3 separate regions of the Homo sapiens genome follow, and all the other regions are linked to region 2. The links come from fine-mapping of genetic effects on gene expression. A gene starts in region 2. Each other region holds a variant in brackets. All regions are shown on one strand. Distances are between the middles of the regions.

Region 1 (8,183 bases), 73 kb before region 2:
CCGCCCCCCGCCCCAGTCTACAGACGCCATACCCTGAGAAATGATACCCTGAGGAGGACACGGCACTTGTTTTGGCCAGGGATGCAGAACCTGAATCTAAACATGAGGAACCATCACAACCATACTCAGAAACATTGTGTAACATCACTGACATTTCTGAAAAATACAGCTCAATGTCATGAAAGACAAAGAAAGGCTGAGGGACAATCAGATTAAAGGAGACCGAAGAGATAAAATCAATCAATGCCATACCTACTCCTGAACTTGATCCTGCTATAAAAGGACACTGGGGGTCTAATGAGAAAATTGGAATATGGACTGTGGGTGAGATAAAGGTATCGTATCAGTATTAAGTTTCCTGAGTTTGATAACTGTACTGTGGTCACTTAAGAGAATATCCTTATTTTTAGGAAATACTTAAGGAAGTATTAAGAGGTAGAAAGACATGATAAAGGTAACTGACTCAGAGAAGTGATATGTACTAAAAAATACAGCACATTCTCCTGATCAGCATTTACAGCCACTTCTATTGCTTGCCTGCCACACTGCAGGTTAATTTAGCTAGAGGGGATAGTTTGTGCTAATTGCCCTGTATCCTCTTTCTTGATTTTTACCAGCTTTCCTAGAACTCCTACACAAGACTCAATGTATAATTCTGATTTTCGTGACTTTAAGCTCACCAGCTTCTAATTCCAACAAAAAACCTATCTGGCTCTTATACAGTCAACTACTTCAATTATATGTGACTTTTTCTAAAAGCATTATTACCATCTGCAGAATTTCTGTGTACTAAGCCAATATAATGAATTCTTAGTCAGCAGTGATTGGCCTTTCTCTTTCAGGACTCCCTGAAGGCTGTGTCCATGGAAACACGTTCTATCAGTGTCCTCTTCAGTCCAGTTGAACTGAAAACTTGAAGGGCTTTTTTTTCCAGCAGTTGCTGTTGACTCGACCAGTGTGCTAAATTGTTTCTGTAGATTCACCACCATTTCTGGAACCGGAGAAAAAAAGGAAACAAAATAACAAGTAATGTTAAATCACAAATAAAGCCTGGAATTTACTTGATAGGAATGTACCAATATTGGTTCCTTAGTTTTCGCAGATGTACCACAGTAATGTAACAGGATAACGTTAAGGGAAAATGAAACTGGATGAGGTGCATGGGGGAAACCTTACTTCAAAAAGAATGTACAGTCTAAAAGGAATTCTATAAGCAAAGAATTTCCAAAATCATAACGATTTAGGATTTTAGATTTTGGCAGGAACTGAGGCTCTGTTTTGAAGAACGACATATTCCTGAAGTAGATTCCTGCAGAGATTTCTTGCAGAGTATGATGCTCCTTTGGATGTACATGTGCCCTGGAACATTTGTTTAAAAAAAGTAAAAAACTTAAGCATTCAACATTTCAAGTCCAGATATTTAATTTTTCTACAACTGTGTTGCTACTTGGTATTAAAAAGACAAAATTTGACTTACCTCTTTTTTTATATGCTACTGGTTTGTCGACAAATGAGTAGTAGAGTGGCTTTTCACTTTTCCACAGGTACCTGTACAAGGTAAAGAAACAGCTGGAGCAGGACGGAGATGAAACGGACATAAACACATTGTCTGAAGCACTATCTGAGATTTCTGATATTTCGTTATAGCTCTGGCTTGGAATGGCCTACTGGCACATGTCTATATTGCCTATTGAACTTAGGCCCTAGAAGGAACCACTGACCAACAGCCCAGGCCAAGAGAATGGTGTGCTCCTCTCAAAAGCCACCCAGATGCTGTGACATCTTGAAGAAGCTATTAATTATACAAAAAACATAGAAACTGTTTCCTTCACCATAAATTTCCCTTGCTGCTCATTCTCATAAAGTGAAGCTACCTCAGAAACAACTGTTCCTCATTGCCTTTGTCCCAATGCCTTTTTGCTGAGAGTTGTTAGTAGTACTTCTGATTCTGATAACTTACACACAGTGAACAGTAAATGCGTCTCTCTGGCATCTGATGCCAGGAAATCTATTCTATTCCTGGTGTAAAGGAGAGGAAAAGACTGGATTCCAGGATGACACAGTCCCAGTAGTCCCTGTTCTGACTCAGCCTATTCTTGCCAAGGGAAGGATGGCCAGGGAGTTTCCACTGTAAAATGGGGATCCTGGATTGCTCTGGCTCTTGGGGTTCCCTCCAGGACAAACACTAAGAGCCATCTAAGGTTCCTACAGATGAGGGTGATCAGTTCCAGACTCCAAAAGGAAGTGACATGTTCTATTTCTAGTTCTAGTGGCTGTTGCTAAACTTTGCCAAGCAGACGCTGCTGCTCTGGAACAAAGACAACAAGGTTCATTCTTGGTCTCATTTTTATTATTTCTGTGTTCCCTAGAGCAGAGAACTTTCATAACTTATAATAATTTTAAAAATCCACCTTCTTCTTAATCCCAGGCCATTTTCTTATTTTGAAAGACACTGTGGCAACAAGAAAGAGTACTGAATCAGAAGACCTGGCTCCACCATTTTCTTTTTTTTTTTTTGAGACGGAGTCTCGCTCTGTCGCCCAGGCTGGAGTGCAGTGGTGGGATCTCGGCTCACTGCAAGCTCCGCCTCCCGGGTTCACGCCATTCTCCTGCCTCAGCCTCCCAAGTAGCTGGGACTACAGGCGCCCGCCACTACGCCCGGCTAATTTTTTGTATTTTTAGTAGAGACGGGGTTTCACCGTTTTAGCCGGGATGGTCTCAATCTCCTGACCTCGTGATCCGCCCGCCTCGGCCTCCCAAAGTGCTGGGATTACAGGCGTGAGCCACCGCGCCCGGCCGGCTCCACCATTTTCTAGTGGCATGACCTTGAATGACAAATTATGGAGGTTCTTAAAGGCAGAGACTGTCTCAGCCATCCTTATGCCCCTAGTGTTGTCAGGGAGTGGTAGAGAGTAGGAACTCATTTAAACATTTGTTGAAGAATAATTGGGTGAATAAATGAACAAAGAAATGAATTTAGCATCTCTAAACTTATCCTCTACTTTCACAGGGTTATTCTGAAGAATAAGATGCTGTATGTATTGGTTCTTTAAATCCTATACAATAATTAGAATTATTATTAGTACTTGACAAAGTGCCTGGCTAGTAGATACTCAAGAAATATCTGTGAACTTTCCAGAAAAACAGATTAAAAATAGGAAGCCAGAAATACAAATATTTTAAAAATCTGTAGCATCTATAATAATTTCTCACCATTTATTTTTAATACTAGGAAGTAATACGTATATAAAAGCACACATTTTTAACAATATTTTAGTAATATCATTTAGCAAATAATCATTTTAACCGATTTAAGAACTGATTTTTTCAAGAATTTTAAAAAATACTTGATCAAGTCAGTAAAATCATGACTATACATAAAACAGATGTTGACTTTTTATTTTGAATTTCTGCAATGATATTAAATGTTAAGAACAGAAAGGAGTCGGGCGCAGTGGCTCATGCCTGTAATCCCAGCACTTTGGGAGGCTGAGGTGGGAGGATCACCTGAGGTTGGGAGTTTGAGACCAGCCTGACCAACATGGAGAAACCCCGTCTCTTTAGTAAATACAAAATTAGTTGGGCATGGTGGCACATGCCTGTAATCTCAGCTACTTGGGAGGCTGAGGCAGAAGAACTGCTTGAACCCGGGAGGCGGAAGTTGC[G/A]GTGGGCCGAGATCGTGTCATTGCACTCCAGCACTCCAGCCTGGGCAACAAGAGCAAAAATCCATCTCAAAAAAAAAAAAAAAAAAGAACAGAAAGGAAATTTTTCTAATCATTAGGTAGCAGTAGAGATGTAATTAATGTTATACAGGAGATGGTTTCCTGAAAATCATGTGAAACTAAACTTTAGTGAACCATACCACATTTAAAATATATCAGAGAGTTTGTCATTTAATGTTATGGTAAATGAGTTAGCGATTCTTTAAAATATATTTTTTTGCCATTAATTTTCTTAAATAATAAAATCTCAAAGGATAAAGAAGTTCCCTGAACAGTCTAATCCCAATCCCTGGGCACACTCACTGTTAAACATTCCTTGTGAATACCTAATCTAAATGGAAGTTTCTTATGCATTTACAGTAAATGCCTACACAAGTGGCAATCATGCCACAGATCAAGAAAGCATTATGATGCCCTTGGGGTGATATGCCCCAAGAATGGGAAAGGTGATCTAAAATAAAAATACTCTTAAGTGTTCAGATACCTGAAATGAAAGCTTCTTCCAAAATTGACTTTACCTTGCCTGCCTTTTCTCATTACATAAAACTACAAAAGGAGACACATCACAAACCATGTTTTCCAGTTACATGTTATCTATATATTTCTCTCTTGTCTGTCTGCATATGTTTCCTCATTTTTAAAAATTAAGGTATAATTTACATTCAGTAAAATTTACTCTTTTCAGTGTAGTTCTGCTAGCACTGACAAACACATACAGTTGCATGTGTGTACTCACCACAATTACTACGTAGAACAGTTCCATCACTCCAAAATATCTCCCACATCCCTTGACAGTCAACCCTTGATCTCAGGCAACTACTGGTCTGTTTTTCTGTCCCCATAGTTTAGCCTTTTCCAGAATGTCATATAAATGGAATCATAGCATAAGTAACCTTTTGAGTCTTTCACATAGCATAATGCATTTAAGATTCACTCATATTGCTGGATGCATAAGAAGTCTGTACTGCTAAATGGTATTCCACTGTACGGATACAACAGTTTAGCTAGTCACCAGTTGAAGAACATGTGGTTTGTTGCCAGTTTTTGGCAATTATGAATGAAACCATTAGAAACATTCCTATGCAGATTTTTGTGTGAGCTTGTTTTCATTTCATTAGGGTAAATATCTAGGAGTGAAAAACACTGGATAACATAATAAATGTATGTTTAACTTTGAGAAACTGACAACTTTTCAAAATAGCGGTACCATTTTGAATTCCCACACTGGGAATGATCAGTTTTTGTTTTTGTTTTGTTTTGAACCATTCTAATTGGTATATAATGATATGTCATTGTCGTTTTAATTTGCATTTCCCTATTAATGATGTTAAACATCTTTTCACATGCCATCTTGATATCATCTTTGGTAAAACGTCTTTTCAAATATTTTGCCCATTTAAAAAAATGGAGTTTTTTTCTTATTGCCTAAAAATTCTTTATATACTCTAGATACAAATCTTTAAACGGATATGTGATTTGCATTTAATTTCTCCTCGTCTGTAGCTTCTTATTCGTTTAAGTTCTTTTGTGGAGCAGAGGTTCTTACTTCTGATGAAGTCCAATTTACCAATTTTTTTTCTTTTATAGATCATGCTTTTGGTGTCACATCTAAGAAATTTCTGCCTAACCCAAAAGGGAAGGCAAAAATTAGCAGTGAACTCAAATTAAAACCATAATGAGATATCACTATACACCAATTAGGGCATAGAGATTTTCTGCACAGGCTTAATTTTTCTCCATGTTCTTCTCAACATCTTCTATAACAGCTAGAAGTCATCAAAGTAGCCTCTTACGCTGTTTTAGGTTTTCAACTATTGTTTATTAGTGTTTTTCATAATCTCATGCATAGGAACCCATGCTCAGATATAGAAAATGTTTTAATAATTTTCATCTGACAACATGGATGATAATATTCAGAGAAACAAAGAGAAAAATTAGACATGTATGTCAACATGGGGGTGGGGAAGGGTGAAACCGACAGGTGGCCACCACGCACTGAGCTCTGGGCCTGAGCAGCAGTTGGTAGTGCTTCGCATATTACTCAGCAGTGACTCACACTGCACGTGTGTGTCAGCCCTCAGCACATACTCTAGGAAGAAGGACCTTGGAAACGGGTCCCCTCGACAGCCTCCACCTTGGGGCCCGGTACCTCCCTGGAAAGTGCCATTTTATAACCAGACTTACTTTCTTTGGCCAATAAATTATTCCCTAAAGTAGCTAAAAGCCGGTAAGTCTTAAATGTGCAACTGACATAACACTGCAATAATGAACTGGGCCTCCAAGAGCTATGTTTAAAGTGTAGGTTGGTGTCTGGCTTGGGGTAAGGAAAGCCCTGTCACCACTGAGACCCCAGGGAGGAATGGCCCCTAGGCACCCAGTCCTTAGGATCCGTCAGGACTAACCCCAGCTAGCACCACAGAAAGGAAGGCTGATTCTCCAAAATGACCTAAGACACATAACAAAATCTTGTTCCTGCTGCTATTCTTGTGCCCACTGAGAGCCACTGACTGAAGAGTCACTCCTTCTCTGATGAGGAGGCAGGGAGCCTGGTTTCCTGGGAATCCATGGGCTGTTGGGATAAATTCACCTCCACCCCTCTTCTTCATTGTGCATCAATCCTGCCTACTGAGAGGGAACCTGTCACACTTCCCTGCTATGGAAAGGATCATCTCCACAGTGCCTTTTCTACCCCAAGAGTCTGTTTTTCTATTTAAAAGCCCTCTGAAATTTAGAGGAAAAATAATCTAGTTCTACTCTCATACTGGAAAATTGGGTCTTAATTACAGTATATAAGTGGGCATTATTATGTCTATTTTACTGATGAAGAAATAGGAGCTGAACAAATTCTCATTTCAACTAATATGGGGAACCTTGATTTTTCTCAAAGGATATAAAATTACTGAGTCGAATTAGTATTACTGTAAATTTACATTAAATACAGAGATGTTACCTTTTTCTTCAAAGCCTCAAAGAGACTCAGACTCAGCAAAAGGTTAAGTAACTGGCCCATGGGCACACAGCTAGCTTGTAATGCAGACAGGATTCAAACCTAGCGCTGCTTATGCTCTCTTCTACCCTACCACAATGAGCCCACATCAGAATGACAGTTCAAAGAAAGGCAGTGACACTGGCTGAATCAAATGGACTTGCTATCTGCTTTCCTTTGTTTTAATTTTCACAGGGATCTTTATTTTGGGGGAACATTCCAATTACATATGTTGCAAGGTAACATTTGTAATCTTTTTAATATTGGGAAGCATAGATGAGAAATGACTAAATTTGAGAAAGGGGAAGAGGGAGGAGTATTAGAAATATAGGCAAGTCTCATGCAAATTATAAAAAGTTAAATTATAAAAAGTATACTGTGGTATCCTGCATTGGATCATGGAACAGAAAGAGGACATTAATAAAAACACTGGTGAAATCCACATCAAATCTAAACTTTGATTAATAGTAATGTAAAAAAGAGAAAAGTTAATTAGAGTGTAGGGCTAATATTTCCAGAAAAAAAAGTCACAATGTAGATAAGTGTATACTGATGAAGCTTCAGCTTTCAAATGTAAAGTAACAGACACAGAAGTAAGGCAGGTGCATCTAAACCAGGAAGGAGAACATACTTGGCCCTTGCTTCTTCCCATTTTTGTTTTTTCTCATCAAAAGCTTTCTTCATAATTTGGTACCACTTTCTGAAATCAAACCATGGCTTATCTGAAAGAAATAAAATCCAAGATTATTAACCAAATAAACCACACTATAATAATATACATTGTTCATCTGAGTTTTCATTAATTGACTGCACTGGGCAGTTGGTGTGAGTGTGTGATCAAGATGTAGACATTAGAGAGACAACAGAACTGAATGCAGTAAAGTATAAAAACTCACTCCTCACTCTTTCACTCCATACAGGGATTATTCTCCATTATTCTCTGGCGAAGGCAGTCTCTTTCCATGCCTAACTAAAAATCTTTTCAACTGGTCAATATGATAATTGTTTAATCCAATATGACCTTGTAGACCATACAGCCACAGAAGAGAGGAAACTACCGAAAGAACTGTAAGAACAGAGGAAAACTATAGTAATCAATAGAACTCACGGTTCTTGGACCTGGAGTAAATCACAACTTTTCTAAACCTCAATCTCCCCATCAATAATGCTGGGGGCAGGGGATGGTGATTAGCAGACAGAGCAGAGAGAAATGACAGTGATCTTTGCCCTGCTGACAGCATGGATTTATTTTGAGGCTTACAGGGAGACAGGTCAAAGCGCTCTGTTTATTCTACATGTCTACGTAGTAAATTATCATCTTTTAGCATTAGAGGGGATGTTAGAAGACAGCTAGTTCAACCTTTCACTCTACATAGAAGCCAACATGAGCAATGTACAGAAAGTAGTATTTTATTTTGCACATATTCTGGAAAGAACACACAAACTGATTGCTTCCAATAAATTCAAGCCTCTAA
Region 2 (8,183 bases):
TTTTTTCCTGGATAAAATATACTAGGATAACATTTTGGTTCCTTTATCAATCTGGAAGGCCTTTCCCAGATTGCAGAGCGTGTCTGGAGCTTGACAGTTACATGCCAAGGAAGAGGGGGCAATAAAAGGGGCAGAAAAATAGGGCAAGTTGCACCATGACTTCCATTCTTCACAGCTGTAACTGTCTCACCTGCCATTCCCCACCCACTGTATTTCAACATCACCATCGCCACACTGCTCAGCTCCAGGGAGCCCCTACCACATTATATTCTCACAGTCCATGTGAAGAACATGCCTGGACCGCCATAAAGCCAAGAATAACTACTGAAGTTGTGCAACACGTAACTTTTTTTTCCTTTAAGCCTGTCGTCTGAAAGGAAGGCACTGAGCTAGGTTCTTGGTCTTTATAAAGATGTTGTCCACCTTCATGAACTCTACATTCTTGACAAATTACTCCACAGGAGTTGACAGTCTTCCAAATGTGGAGCTAGGGAGAAGTATTAGGATCTTTCAAACTAAAAAATGACTGCAGCAGATTTGATCAAACAGAATCAAACGGAAACAGTATCAAAATCAAAAATAGAAAAGCAATTAGTTAATGTAGTTCAATTCCTATAAAAATAGTATGCTGACTTCATCTACTAATGGCAAATACTCCATTAGACATAATCTTTCTTCACTGGGTTTACACCTGCACTATAGTACAAAAGCAACAGTGAGTAAAACTGCTAGCTCCTTACTACACAATGAGGGTGAGGACCAAACTGCACATCTGTCAGGTGCACAATCTGACACACACAGACACACACACAAAATATATCTCCATGAAACCACCACTATAATCAAGATAATAAATATCTCCATCACCCCAACAATTTCATCAAGTGAGCACATATCTTTTTAATATTCTGTATGACTAAACAGGAAGCAGAGATAAGCATTCCAGCTGCAGACTCAAGAACACTGCCTCAAGGAAAAGCACTTGTGTGACACACCTGCAAGCTCAATTCACCAGTTTTGTCAAGGGAAAATGTTTTTCCTTTTACTCATTTAATATATTTTGTCCAGGTTTTTCATTGTTTAGGGGACAAAGGTAAGTCTGGTCTCTGTTAGTCCATCTTAGCCAGAAGCAGAAGTCTACACAGTTACTTTTAATGTCCCAAATTTGCCTTTCTTAAGCCTGTATGGTGAAGGTAACATTTGTTCCTTCCTGGATCTGTAGACTTTGAGGAAATCCTTTTCCACTGAGGAGAGTCCTGGCACATTTAGCCTGTCCAGCAGCAGACTCTCTACACCCTTGATCACTTTGGTGATGCTGGCCCGAAGGTGTGTTCACCACAATAGGACCTAGCACTCACAATGTGAAGGTAGCCTCGTTTACCAAGGTTACACAGGACAATATGACAATCTCTACTTTAAGAGGCAGGTGTGATGGGTAAAATGAACACTGAAGTCAGAAGACTCACATTCAAGTCCTGGTACTTGGGTAACTTTGGCAAACTCACTCAACTTCTGAGCCCTATCAATAGGCTCTCACAGTTAGTGATGAGGAGGAAATGAGATAATGGATCCAAAAACTTTGTAATCTGTAAGGTACTATACAAAGGTAAAAGGATAACGAAGAATAATTCCAATATTCCCAACAGTCCTCAAGCTTTCTTTCTCTTTTTTAGACAGAGTCTTGCTCTGCTGCCCAGGCTGGAGTACAGTGGCGTGATCTCGTCTCACTGCAACCTCCGCCTCCTGGGTCCAAGCGATTCTCCTGCCTCAGCCTCTCAAGTAGCTGGGACTACAGGCGCATGCTACCACGCCTGGCTAATTGTTGTATTTTTAGTAGAGACGGAGTTTCCCATTGTTGGACAGACTGGTCTCAAACTCCCGACCTCAGGTGATCCACCTGCCTTAGCCTCCCAAAGTGCTGGGATTACAGGCGTAAGCCACTGCGCCCGGCCCAGTCCTCAAGTTTTCTAACATTCCATCTTCCAAACCTCTAAGCCACCATGACACATTTAAAAAAATGTAAATAAGTACTAACTGATAAAAAGAAATGCATCATCTTCTAAGTACAATTTTAATTATTTCCCTCAACCACATACTCTGAATAAGAAATCATTTATAAATGTGGCCCAACATAATTTCAAAAACTCATCCTCAATCTAATTCACAAATCCCTTAACCTATGTGTAAGTACCTAAGACCACATGCATCCTTGGAATGTTGGCATTGCATGAGTGACAAAAATCAACCCAATTCTTTGGGACTTAGACTACATATCAGGCTGAAATGGCAATTTTTAAAACATAAGCAAATTCATAAATGATATTTGTTACTTACCTCTGTAACATTGTGGCAAGAAGTGCAATAATATTTGCCTTCATCAGTAAGACCCCATGAGACAGCAGCACACTGAGTACAGCGTTCTTTAAACTCTTCCTATGGGAGAAGAGGACAGAAAAGGTGTTCCCATCAAGCCACATTCAATACATCGTACCTAAACCTTGCAGTTCTATTTAATGGGTTCCTGGCAACTTTATTAATAAAAAATCATAGACAATAAAAAATATGTCAGAGAGATTATCCGCAAACAAGGAGAGGCGCGGTATGAAACCGAATTAAACTACTGGAGAAAATTTATTGAAATATGCAGTGTGACAGGAAAAAAAAAGAAAAGGAGGTAGTAGGGGTAAACTGGAACCAAAGATGAGTAAACAAAGCTCCTTGAAAATACTGTGAGAAGATGACAAACAAGTATAGAGAAGACTTTTAAAAAATGCAAATACAATTTGGAACTCCTCCAGGACACTAAAAGCGCATACCACAGAGGAACTAGATTTGTAATGGTTTCAAGTTTCGATTTATTCACTCGGCAGCATAAGGGGTATCAACTATGTGTGTACCAGGCTTTTTACTAGGTGCTGGGGATTCAATGGTGAGCAAAACAGACCAGACATGATCCCTAGTCTGGGTATACGCTAGCTAATGGTGAGTTACAATTATTCATTTCATCAGCCTAGCATTTACAGAAGTTAGCCAACCATCATCAGTAAACATTTTTTAAGCCTCTACTATAAGACCGTACTGCTCCTGTATATACAGGCCTAATTCTCTGATCCCCAACTCTTTGGAGTTTGACTTGTTGTTAGCATTGATCTAATTATCGAGTATCATTTAATACCATCAAAGCGTGTGCCATTTGGCCGAGGGCGGGGGATCACCCCTATAATCCCAGCACTTTGCGAGGCTGAGGCAGGAAGATCGCCTGAGCCCAGGAGTTCAATACCAGTCTGGACAACATAGCGAGACCCCTGCCCCTACAAAAAATTAAAAAAAAAAAAATTAGCCGGGCTTGGTGGTGCATGTCTGTAGCCCTAGCTCATTGGAAGGCTGAGGCGGAAGGATCTCTCGAGCCCAGGATTCGAGGCTGCAGTGAGCCGTGATCGTGCCACTGTACTCCAGCCTGGGGGAAGAAGTGAGATCTTGTCTCAAAAATAAAAAACAAAAATGTGCCATTTTACGTAGTACCTAAAACAAAACAAAATGCATGCCAAATCAATTTTGGCAACTTGGTAAAGTGTTCAGTGACCCCGTACTAACACTACGATGAATGATAGCTGGACAATTTGGGGAGTTCCCAAACCCGAATTTAGAATCCCTGCTGGAGACAGTGGCAAGGATTCCCGGAGAGACCGACAGGGGTTACCCGGCGGCATCTCAGGTTCCAACCCCTGCCCCTCCCTCACCCACCCCAGCATTAAAGGGAACTTGTGGGTGGTCCAGTCTCGAGGATGAGCCCTGTGGGTGGCCACCCCACAAAACCCACAGCTTCATCCTTAAACACACCCATAACGACAAACACCACACCCTCCCTCCCCCACAACCTCGCCGAGCCAGAAACTCCAGCCTCTTTACCAAAGCCGCGCGCGCATGCGGCCGGCCAGCCCCAGTCCTTAGCCCGCCCTGCAGCCCTCCGCCCCGCCTTCCTCCAGCCGGTGGCGTCGCCGCCCCAACCCGCGGCGTCCTCCGCCGCTCCTCCTCAGCTTCTCTCTCCTCCGGCCCCGGCGATCGTGGCCCGCCAGGTGCACCGCCTCCTTACCGCCTCCTCGAGGTCCATCGCGGCGCCGCGGGAGCTTCCACAGCCGGGACCCGTTACCCGGGTAGCGAGCGCAGCTTCCGGGAAAGGCTGGAGAAGCTTCCGGCCGGAAACGCGAGATCCGCGCCTAGGATTCCGTGCGCCTGCGCGGCAGGGAAACCGCGCGCTCGGGGGCGAGGCTCCGCAAAGCTCGCAGACCCCTCGCGGACTACCTAACTTTCCTACTCTTGAGAACCAAAACCAACCAATAAGAAAGTGGGCGACGCCTACTGCTGAGTGGTTTGATCAAGCTCCGTTCCGACGATCATTCATTCCAAGACAGACTTGCTCCTCCGGCGGCACGGGGGGTCGGACAAGGCCGTGCTCGCGAGCGCGGGCTCTGTCCTCTGTGGGTTCCGCCCTCCGTGGGTTCTGCCCTCCGAGTCTCGCCCCTTGCTGGCTTTTTTAAGGGGAAGCCTCGGGGCTTGGAGGAAAGCTCACGGGCTGTGAGTTAGACCTAGGTTTCTAATCACGGCTCTCCTGCTTACTTGTGCCTCAGTTTACTCCTCTGTAAGAATTAGATGTTATCTGTGAGCCCCTTATAATTGAGTCTCCACCGGGCGTGCTGGTTCACGCCTGTAATCCTGGGGAGGCTGAGTCGGGAGGATTGCTTGAGGCCAGGAGTTGGAGACCAGCCGGGGCAACAAAGCGAGACCCCTTCTCTGCATAAGTAAATAACTGAATAAATAAATGCATGAGTGAATATAATTGAGTCTCAGTAAGTGCTCAATAAATTTAGCTCTTATTGTTTCTTCATCTAACACATTCATTCCTTGTTTTATTTATTAAACAGGAACTGGTTTGTGTCCTGGGGATTCAGCAGTGAACAAAGTAAACAAAAGTCCTTGCCTTCATGGAGATTGTATTCTGATGGGGAGAGACAAAAATAAATAAGGAAAATATGTGGTATGTTAAGTGGTGGTGAGTTCCAAGGAGAAAAATAAAGAGGAGAGGAGAATGGGAACAACAAGGTGATTTCAGTCTGAAATGTGATGTTCAAGAGAGATCTCATTGAGAAGAGGATTTTTGATATAATCGTACATCCCAAGAAGTTAGAAAAAAGATTAAACTGAAAAATAATGGGATGAAGGAAATGTTTAAAAAAGAGAAATTAATAAAAGAGAAAGCAAGCTTCGATAGGCTCCACAAAGGCTTGCTGTGGTGGCTGGTGCCTGTAATCCCATCACTGTGGGAGGCGAAGGCGGGCAGATTGCTGGAGGGCGGGAGTTGGAGACCAGCCTGCCCAACATATTGAGTCCTCATCTCTATAGGCTGGAGTACAATGGTTCAATCTCAGCTCAGTGCAGCCTCCACCTCCCAGGTTCAAGCAATTCTCCTGCCTCAGCCTCCCAAGTAGCTGGGATTATAGGCACGCGCCACGACGCCTGGCGAATTTTTGTATTTTTAGTAGAGACGGGGTTTCACCAGGTTGGCTGGGCTGATCTCGAACTCCTGACCTCAAGTGATCTGCCCACCTCGGCCTCCCAAAGTGCTAGGATTACAGGCGTGAGCCACCACGCCCAGCCTAAAAGATATTTTTTAAGAAGAGAGTCTCAACCAACTAACATTAGCTCTTTGAAAATACTAATACATTCGATAAACTCTGGAAAGATTGATCAAAAAGAAAAGAGCCCAGCTTGGTGATGCACACCTACAGTCCTAGCTACTTGGGAGGATGAGACGGGAGGTTTGCTTGAGCTCAAGGCTGCAGTGAGCTATAATCGGGCCACTGTGCTCCAGTCTGAGCAACGGAGCAAAGAAAATCAAAATAAACTGATATCAGTGGCATCACTAACCAATATGTAGGGGCATCACTGCAAATACCACAGACATTAAAAAGATCATAAGGGCATATTCTGAACAACTCTAGGCCAATAAATGTGAAAATTCCACCAATTTTTTTTTTTAAGACAGTCTTGCTCTTTCACCCAGTCTGGAGTGCAGTGGCACCATCTCAGCCCACTGCAACCTCCGCTTCCCAGGTTCAAGCAATTCTCCTGCCTCAGCCTCCTAAATAGCTGGGACTACAGGCGCCTACCACCACACCTGGCTAAGTTTTGTATTTTTAGTAGAGATGGAGTTTCACCATATTGGCCAGGCTGATCTTGAACTCCTGACCTGCCCACCTCGGCCTCCCAAAGTACTGGGGTTACAGGCATGAGCCACCACGCCTGGCCAAATTCTACCAAATTTTTAAGAAAGAAATAGGCCAGTCATGGTGGCTCACGCCTGTAATCCCACCACTTTAGGAGGCTGAGGCAGGAGAATATTTGAGGCCAGGAGTTCGAGACCAGCCTGACCAACATGACAAAACCTCGTCTCTACTAAAAATACAAAAATTAGCTGGGCATGGTGTTGCACGCCTGTAATCCTAGCTACCTGGGAGGCTGAGGCACAAGAATTGCTTGAACCTGGGAGGCAGAGGTTGCAGTGGGCCAAGATCATGCCATTGCACTCCAGCCTGGTTGATAGAGAGAGACTCTGTCTCAATAATAATAATAATTTTAAAAAGAAATAAATAACACCCATCTTATACAGATGCTTCCAAATAATGAAAAAAGAAGAGCATTTACCAGTACATTTTAGGAGACAAGCATGACCTTGACACCAAAACTTGACAAGGATATTTCAAGAAAAGTCAAAATTAAAAAGCAATTCCTCTCATAAACATACATGCAAAAGTTCCAAACAAAACATCAGTAAATTGAATGTACATCCTGTTGTACTCAGCAATATATAAATAGGATAATAAATCACAGCCAAGTTAGGTTTATTCTAGGAATGCAAGTTTGTTTAACATCGAGCCTGTAATCTCAGCATTTTGGAAGGCCAAGGTGGACAGAACACTTAAGCCCAGGAGTTTGAGATCAGCCTGGGAAACATAATGAGACCTCATTTCTGCAAAAAATTAAAAAATTAGCTGGGTGTGGTGGCACAGTCCAATAGTCCCAGGTACCTAGGAGACTGAGGTGGGAGGATCGGTTGAGGCTGCAGTGAGCTGTGGTCACGCCACTGCATTCCAGCCTACATGACAAAGCAAGACCTTTTCTCAAAATTAAAAAATGTTAAAAGAAAAAGTAGAGAAAAAAGAATAAAGATTTAAAAAATAAATAAAAGAGAAAAAAATAAATCATACAGTAATCTAGTGTGATGCAAGGATAGACCAAAAAATTGACAGAACTGAATAGAAAGTCCAGAAACGGACTCATAAGTACATATAAAATAATCTGATTTACAACAAAGCTGCTACTAAAATTCAGTGAGGAAAGAATAGCTTTTCTCCTTTTTCTTTGTTTCTTTTTTGAGATAGAGTCTTGCTCTGTTGCCCAGGCTGGAGTGCAATGGCACAATCGCGGCTCACTGCAACCTCTGCCACTCAGGTTCAAGCAATTCTCGGGCCTTAGCTTCCCAAGTAGAGGTAGCTGGGACTACAGGCATGTGCCATGACACCTGGCTAATTTTGTATTTTTTAGTAGAGATGGAATTTTGCCATGTTGGCCAGGCTGGTCTCGAACTCATAGCCTCTAGTGATCCACCCACCTCGGCCTCCCAAAGTGCTGGGATTATAGGCGTGAGCTGAAAGAATAGTTTTTCAATAAATGGTTCTGAATCAATCAGACATGCATATGAGAAAATTATTGACCCCTTTCTCACACTGTACACAAAAATTAATTCAAATAGATCCTACATGTGATAGGTAAAACCATAAAGCTTCTAGAAAAAAAAAGTGGTAAATATCTTTATGATTTGGTGTGGAATAGACTTCATCAACAGGGCACAAAAAGCACTACTCCTAAGAGAAAAGGTCATTACACTGGATTTCATTAAATTAAGAACTTCGATTCATCAGAAGACATTGTTAGGCTGAGCACAGTGGCTCACGCCTAGAACCTAGCACTTTCAGAGGCCGAGGTGGGAGGATTGCTTCAGCCCAGAAGTTCAAGATCAGCCTGGGCAACATAGAGAGATCCTATCTCTACAAAATTTTTTTAAAACTTAGTTGGGTGTGGTGGGCATGCCTGTAGTTCCAGCTACTCAGGAGGCTGGGTCGGGG
Region 3 (8,183 bases), 85 kb before region 2:
CCCGTGCAGCCTAACTGGGAGACACCTCCCAGTAAGGGCCGACTGACACCTCATACAGGCAGGTGCCCCCTGGGACAAAGCTTCCAGAGGAAGGATCAGGCAGCAATATTTGCTGTTCTGCAGCCTCCACTGGTGATACCCAGGCAAACAGGGTCTGGAGTGGACTTCCAGCAAACTCCAACAGACCTGCAGCTGAGGGACCTGACTGTTAGAAGGAAAACTAACAAACAGAAAGGAGTAGCATCAACATCAACAAAAAGGACATCCACAACAAAACCTCATCTGTAGGTCACCAACATCAGAGACCAAAGGTAGATAAAACCACAAAGGTGGGGAGAAACCAGAGCAGAAAAGCTGAAAATTCTAAAAACTGGAGCACTTCTTCTCCTCCAAAGGATTGCAGCTCCTTGCCAGCAACGGAACAAAGCTGGATGGAGAATGACTTTGACGAGCTGACAGAAGTAGGCTTCAGAAGGTCGGCAATAACAAACTTTTCTGAGCTAAAGGCAGATGTTCAAACCCATCGCAAGGAAGCTAAAAACCTTGAAAAAAGATTAGACGAATGGCTAACTAGAACAAACAGCGTAGAGAAGACCTTAAATGATCTGATGGAGCTGAAAACCATGGCATGAGAACTATGTGACACATGCACAAGCTTCAATAGCCGATTCGATCAAGTGGAAGAAAGGGTATCAGTGATTGAAGATCAAATTAATGAAATAAAGTAAGAGAGAAGTTTAGAGAAAAAAGTAAAAAGAAACAAACAAAGCCTCCAAGAAATATGGGACTATGTGAAAAGACCAAATCTACATTTGATTAGTGTACCTGAAAGTGACGGGGAGAATGGAACCAAGTTGGAAAACACTCTGCAGGATATTATCCAGGAGAACTTCCCCAACCTAGCAAGGCAGGCCAACATTCAACTTCAGGAAATACAGAGAACACCACACAAAGATACTCCTTGAGAAGAGCAACCCAAGACACATAACTGTCAGATTCACCAAGGTTGAAATGAAGGAAAAAATGTTAAGGGCAGTCAGAGAGAAAGGTCGGTTACCCACAAAGGGAAGCCCATCAGACTAACAGCTGATCTCTCGGCAGAAACTCTACAAGCCAGAAGAAAGCGGGGGACAATATTCAACATTCTTAAAGAAAAGAATTTTCAACCCAGAATTTCATATCCAGCCAAACTAAGCTTCATAAGTGGAGGAGAAATAAAATCCTTTACAGACAAGCAAATGCTGAGAGATTCTGTCACCACCAGGCCTGCCTTACAAGAGCTCCTGAAGGAAGCACTAAACATGGAAAGGAGCAACCGGTATCAGCCGCTGCAAAAACATGCCAAATTGTAAAGACCATCAAGGCTAGGAAGAAACTGCATTAACTAATAGGCAAAATAACCAGCTAACATCATAATGACAGGATCAAATTCACACATAACAATATTAACCTTAAATGTAAATGGGCTAAATGCCCCAATTAAAAGACACAGACTGGCAAATTGGATAAAGAGTCAAGACCCATCAGTGTGCTGTATTCAGGAGACCCATCTCACATGCAGAGACACACATGGGCTCAAAAAAAAGGGATGGAGGAAGATCTACCAAGCAAATAGAAAGCAAAAATAGCATGGGTTGCAATCCTAGTCTCTGATAAAACAGACTTTAAACCAACAAAGATCAAAAGAAATAAAGAAGGCCATTACATAATGGTAAAGGGATCAATTCAACAAGAAGAGCTAACTATCCTAAATATATAGGCACCCAATACAGGAGCACTCAGATTCATAAAGCAAGTCCTCAGAGACCTACAAAGACTTAGACTCCCACACAATAATAATGGGAGACTTTTAACAACCCACTGTCAGTATTAGACAGATTAACGAGACAGAAGGTTAACAAGGATAGATATCCAGGACTTGAACTCAGCTCTGCACCAAGTGGACCTAATAGACATCTATAGAACTCTCCACCCCAAATCAACAGAATATACATTCTTCTCAGCACCACATCACACTTACTCCAAAATTGACCACATAGTTGGAAGTAAAGCACTCCTCAGCAAATGTAAAAGAACAGAAATCACAACAAATGGTCTCTCAGACCACAGTGCAATCAAATTAGAACTCAGGATTAAGAAACTCACTCAAAACCGCACAACTACTTGGAAACTGAACAACCTGTTCCTGAATGACTATGGGGTAAATAACGAAATAAAGATGTACTTTGAAACCAATGAGAACAAAGACACAACATACCAGAATCTCTGGGACACATTTAAAGCAGTGTGTAGAGGGAAGTTTATAGCACTAAATGCCCACAAGAGAAAGCAGGAAAGATCTAAAATCGACATCTTAACATCACAATTAAAAGAACTAGAGAAGCATGAGCAAACAAATTCAAAAGCTAGCAGAAGGCAAGACATAACTAAGATCAGAGGAGAACTGAAGGAGATACAGACACAAAAAACCCTTAAAAAAATCAATGAATCCGGGAGCTGGTTTTTTGAAAAGATGAAAAAAATTGATAGACCGCTAGCAAGACTAATAAAGAAGAAAAGAGAAGAATCAAATAGATGCAATGATAAAGGGGATATCACCACCGATCCCACAGAAATACAAACTACCATCAGAGAATACTATAAATACCTCTATGCAAATAAACTAGAAAATCTAGAAAAAATGAATAAATTCCTGGACATGTACACCTTTCCAAGACTAAGCCAGGAAGAAGCTGAATCTCTGAATAGACCAATAACAGGTTCTGAAATTGAGGCAATAATTAATAGCTTACCAACCAAAAAAAGTCCAGGACCAGACGGATTCACAGCCGAACTCATCAGAGGTACAACAAGGAGCTGGTACCATTCCTTCTGAAACTATTCCAATCAACAGAAAAAAGAGGGAATCCTCCCTAACTCATTTTTATGAGGCCAGCATCATCCTGATACCAAAGCCTGGCAGAGACACAACAAAAAAAGAGAATTTTAGATCAATATCCTTGATGAACATTGATACAAAAATCCTCAATAAAATACTGGAAAACTGAATCCAGCAGCACATCAAAAAGCTTATCCACCACGATCAAGTCGGCTTCATCCCTGGGATGGAAGGCTGGTTCAACATACGCAAATCAATAACATAATCCATCACATAAACAGAACCAAAGGCCAGGCACGGTGGCTCGCGCCTGTAATCCCAGCACTTTGGGAGGCTGACGTGGGTGGATCACGAGGTCAGGAGATTGAGACCGTCTTGGCTAACACGGTGAAACCCCGTCTTTACTAAAAATACAAAAACTTAGCCAGGTGTGGAGGCGGGCACCTGTAGTCCCAGCTACACAGGAGGCTGAGG[T/C]AGGAGAATGGCGTGAACCCGGGAGGCGGAGGTTGCAGTCAGCCGAGATTGTGCCACTGCACTCCAGCCTGGGCGACAGAGCGAGACTCCGTCTCTAAACAACAACAACAACAACAACAACAACAACAAACAGAACCAATGACAAAACCACCTGATTATCTCAATAGATGCAGAAGAGGCCTTCGACAAAATTCAACAGCCCTTCATGCTAAAAACTCTCAATAAACTAGGTACTGATGGAACATATCTCAAAACAATAAGAGCTATTTATGAGAAACCCACAGCCAATATCATACTGAATGGGCAAAAACTGGAAGCATTCCCTTTGAAAACTGGCACAAGACAGGGATGCCCTCTCTCACCACTCCTATTCAACATAGTGTTGGAAGTTCTGGCCAGGGCAATCAGGCAGGAGAAAGAAATAAAAGGTATTCAATTAGGAGAAGAGGAAGTCAAATTGTCCCTGTTTGTACATGACATGATTGTATATTCAGAAAACCCCATCATCTCAGCCCAAAATCTCCTTAAGCTGATAAGCAACTTCAGCAAAGTCTCAGGATACAAAATCAATGTGCAAAAATCACAAGCATTCCTTTACACCAATAACAGACAAACAGAGAGCTAAATCATGAGTGAACTCCCATTCACAATTGCTACAAAAAGAATAAAATACCTAGGAATCCAACTTACAAGGGATGTGAAGGATCTCTTCAAGGAGAACTACAAACCACTGCTCAACGAAATAAAAGAGGACACAAACAAATGGAAGAACATTCCATGGTCATGGATAGGAACAATCAATATCGTGAAAATGGCCATGCTGCTTAAGGTAATTTATAGATTCAATGCCATCCCCATCAAGCTACCAATGACTTTCTTCACAGAACTGGAAAAAACTAAAGTTCATATGGAACCAAAAAAGAGCCCGCATTGCCAAAACAATCCTAAGCAAAAAGAACAAAGCTGGAGGCATTACACTACCTGACTTCAAATTATACTACAAGGCTACAGTAACCAAAACAGCATGGTACTGGTACCAAAACAGAGATATAGACCAATGGAACAGAACAGAGGCCTCAGAAATAACACCACACATCTACAACCATCTGATCTTTGACAAACCTGACAAAAACAAGAAGTGGGGAAACGATTCCCTATTTAATAAACGGTGTTGGGAAAACTGGCTAGCCATATGTAGAAAGCTGAAACTGGATCCCTTCCTTACACCTTATACAAAAATTAATTCAAGATGGATTAAAGACTTACATGTTAGACCTAAAACCATAAAAACCCTAGAAGAAAACCTAGGCAATACCATTCAGGACATAGGCATGGGCAAGGACTTCATGACTAAAACACCAAAAGCAATGGCAACAAAAGCCAAAATAGACAAATGGGACCTAATTAAACTAACAAGCTTCTGCACAGCAAAAGAAACTACCATCAGAGTGAACAACTTACAGAATGGGAGAAAATTTTTTCAATCTACCCATCTGACAAAGGGCTAATATCCAGAATCTACAAAGAACTTAAACAAATTTACAAGAAAAAAACAACCCCATCAAAAAGTGAGCAAAGGATATGAACAGACACTTCTCAAAAGAAGACATTTATGCAGCCAACAGACACATGAAAAAATGCTCATCATCACTGGCCATCAGAGAAATGCAAATCAAAACCACAATGAGATACCATCTCACACCAGTTAGAATGGCAATCAATAAAAAGTCAGGAAACAACAGGTGCTGGAGAGGATGTGAAGAAACAGGAATGCTTTCACACTATTGGTAGGACTGTAAACTAGTTCAACCATTGTGGAAGACAGTGTGGCAATTCCTCAAGGATCTAGAACTAGAAATACAGTTTGACCCAGTGATCCCCTTACTGAGTATATACCCAAAGGATTATAAATCATGCTACTATAAAGACACATGCACATGTATGTTTGCTGTGGCACTATTCACAATAGCAAAGACTTGGAACCAACCCAAATGTCCTTCAATGATAGACTGGATTAAGAAAATGTGGCACATATACACCATGGAATACTATGCAGCTATAAAAAAGGATGAGTTCATGACCTTTGCAGGGACATGAATGAAGCTGGAAACCATCATTCTGAGCAAACTATCACAAGGACAGAAAACCAAACACCATATGTTCTCACTCATAAGTGGGAATTGAACAATGAGAACACTTGGACACAGGGCGGGGAACATCACACACTGGGGCCTGTCGTGGGGTGGGGGCAGGGGGAGGGACAACATTAGGAGAAATACCTAATGTAAATGACCAGTTGATGGGTACAGCAAACCAACATGGCACATGTATCTATGTAACAAACCTGTAGGTTGTGCACATGTACCCTAGAACTTAAAGTATATATATAAAAAAAAAGTTAAACCTGAATCTGATCAAATCTCTAACTAATGTTAACTGCCAATCTCTCTTTTTTTTTTTTTTTTTTGAGACAGAGTCTCACCCCGCTGACTGCAACCTCTGCCTCCCAGGTTCAAGTGATTCTCCTGCCTCAGCCCCCCAAGTAGCTGGGACTACAGGCATGCACCACCATGCCCGGCTAATTTTTGTATTTTTAGTAGAGATGGGGTTTCACCATGTTGGCCAGTCTGGTCTCGAACTCCTGACCTCAGGTGATCCACCCACCTCAGCCTCCCAAAGTGTTGAGATTACAGGCATGAGCCACCGCACCTGGCCATAACTGCCAATCTCAAACTAACTACATCAACATATAGGCTATCCAGGGATAGAGGAAGAGGTTAGATGGCATCATATGGCACTGTCTATACACAAAATCTGGACTATGAGAAATTGTATGGGACACATGACCAGGATTACTCAGTAAGTACATTGTAAGAAGAAAAAAGAGAGAGATAAAGAGGTGGGGCCTTAAGAACTGAAACACTTATGAGCCATGTCAACCACTTGCAATATATGGGCCTGATTTGGATTCTGAGTTAAACTCATTTAAAAAATTTTATGACAATAGGGAAAAATCTAATCACTGACTGCATATTGGAGAATATTAAGAAATGACTTAATTTTTTATATCTGATTAATGGTATTATGGTTTTACTTTAAAAAATATGATGTTTGAGATCTGTTTCCAAATAATGGGGGGCAGAGGGGTAGAGTAAGCTGGAGCCTGGGTGAAGCAAGTCTTGCCATGTCACAGTTGCTGAGATTGAGTGACAGAGACGGGGGGTTCTTTATACTACTCTACTTCTGAGTATACCAGAAATTTCCCATTATCAACTTTAAAAAGCAAGTAAAGAAATAACATATAGAAGCTATAGACATTGAGATATTATGATTTACATAATATATACGGCCCTAAATTCCTGAATGTCTATGTTTGCACCATAAAACTCTGCCACTTGGTTGGGCACAGTGGCTCATGCCTGTAATCCCAACACTTTGGGAGGCCGAGGCGGGCAGATCACGAGGTCAGGAGTTTGAGACCAGCCTGACTAACATGATGAAACCCCGTCTCTACTAAAAATACAAAAATTAGCCAGGGGTGGTAGCGCATGTCTGTAGTAGCAGCCACTCGGGAGGCTGAGGCACAAGAATCGCTTGAACCCAGGGAGGTCGCAGTGAGCCAAGATTGTGTCACTGCACTCTAGCCTGGGTGACAGAACGAGCTTCTGTCTCAAAAAAAAAACAAACACCCCAAAACAAAAAAACCCAAAACCAATCAACCAACCAAACAAAACCCTCTGCCACCCATTAGCTGTGACTATGGGTAACTACTCTTGGTTCTCTCATCTGTAAAACGGAAAAAAATAACAGTACTTACACTTTTCTTTTTTTTGAGACGGAGTCTCACTCTGTCACCCAGGCTGGAGTGCAGTGGCACAATCTTGGCTCACTGCAAGCTCCGCCTCCCGGGTTCATGCCATTCTCCTACCTCAGCCTCCTGAGTAGCTGGGACTACAGGCATGCACCACCATGCCCGGCTAATTTTTTGTATTTTAGTAGAGATGGGGTTTCACCATGTTGGCCAGGATGGTCTCGATCTCCTGACCTCGTAATCCGCCCACCTCGGCCTCCCAAAGTGCTGGGATTACAGGTGTGAGCCACCCTGCCCGGCCTGAGTACTGTTTTTTCACTATAGTTTAAAAAAATAGTTAAAAAATAATTTTTAAAAAATTAAAATCACATTTTTGTGGGGCTGCCAAAGCACTTCCATTTCCTGTGGAATACAACTAAAGACCACTGCTCTGCCTCATCTGTGGAACTCCCAGGGAGGTGACGGCCACCACCTACAAGAAGTCAGGTCTTCTGACCTAGCCAACTGTTATAACAATTGGAGGAATAGTAAGGGCATTTCAATTCATTGAAATTGTTAACTCTGCCTCAGCTAGGAAGAATAAACAGCCTCCCATACCTGAAGTACTCTTGTGGCCTTTCTCTGCTTAGTTCCCAAGCTCTGAGTGTTTTCACAATTTTACAGCAAATGTTTTGTTTCTTCTGAACACTCAGAAATGAGTCCTTCTGCCTAACAAAATTCGATACATAGCTAAATATTTGCTCTCATAAGCATCACTTTTCATTGTAATCATTTTCAATGGTTGTCTTAGAGCATATTCGGCATATTTTAGCCTTTACAATGATATTATTACAGTTGCCTGTTTTTATTGTAGAAACATTAGAAAACATGCTAATAAAACCCACCACGAAGGCACACAGCGTCTTAGGACAGGTGCTGTGCTGAAGCAGGGATGTGGTCCCCTTATTTAGTGGCATGGAGCCATGAACTTCAGGCTCTGCGACTGGAGCTCTGTCTGCTTTGGATTCTGATGTTGGCTCC

What was found. PIP is the estimated chance that this variant, and not a neighbour inherited with it, causes the effect.
Region 1: its variant is fine-mapped to the expression of TAF1B in monocytes (TOPMed, PIP 0.99).
Region 3: its variant is fine-mapped to the expression of TAF1B in subcutaneous fat (GTEx, PIP above 0.99).

Annotation. Positions count from the first base shown.
Region 1 is chr2:9,912,406-9,920,588 of GRCh38, reverse strand. It overlaps TAF1B (TATA-box binding protein associated factor, RNA polymerase I subunit B), which reads right to left. Exons shown (of 15, transcript NM_005680.3): 12 at 7,340-7,430; 13 at 1,478-1,548; 14 at 769-991. Among named protein-coding and RNA genes, the nearest start is that of GRHL1, 35 kb to the left of the region's middle. RefSeq lists an enhancer at 2,660-3,161. The variant G/A (reference allele first, on the strand shown) is at 3,666.
Region 2 is chr2:9,839,470-9,847,652 of GRCh38, reverse strand. It overlaps TAF1B (TATA-box binding protein associated factor, RNA polymerase I subunit B), which reads right to left and starts at 4,179. Exons shown (of 15, transcript NM_005680.3): 1 at 4,094-4,179; 2 at 2,335-2,433. The coding sequence starts at 4,111. RefSeq lists a silencer at 3,819-3,898.
Region 3 is chr2:9,924,441-9,932,623 of GRCh38, reverse strand. All of the region lies in intron 14 of TAF1B (TATA-box binding protein associated factor, RNA polymerase I subunit B), which reads right to left. Among named protein-coding and RNA genes, the nearest start is that of GRHL1, 23 kb to the left of the region's middle. The variant T/C (reference allele first, on the strand shown) is at 3,353.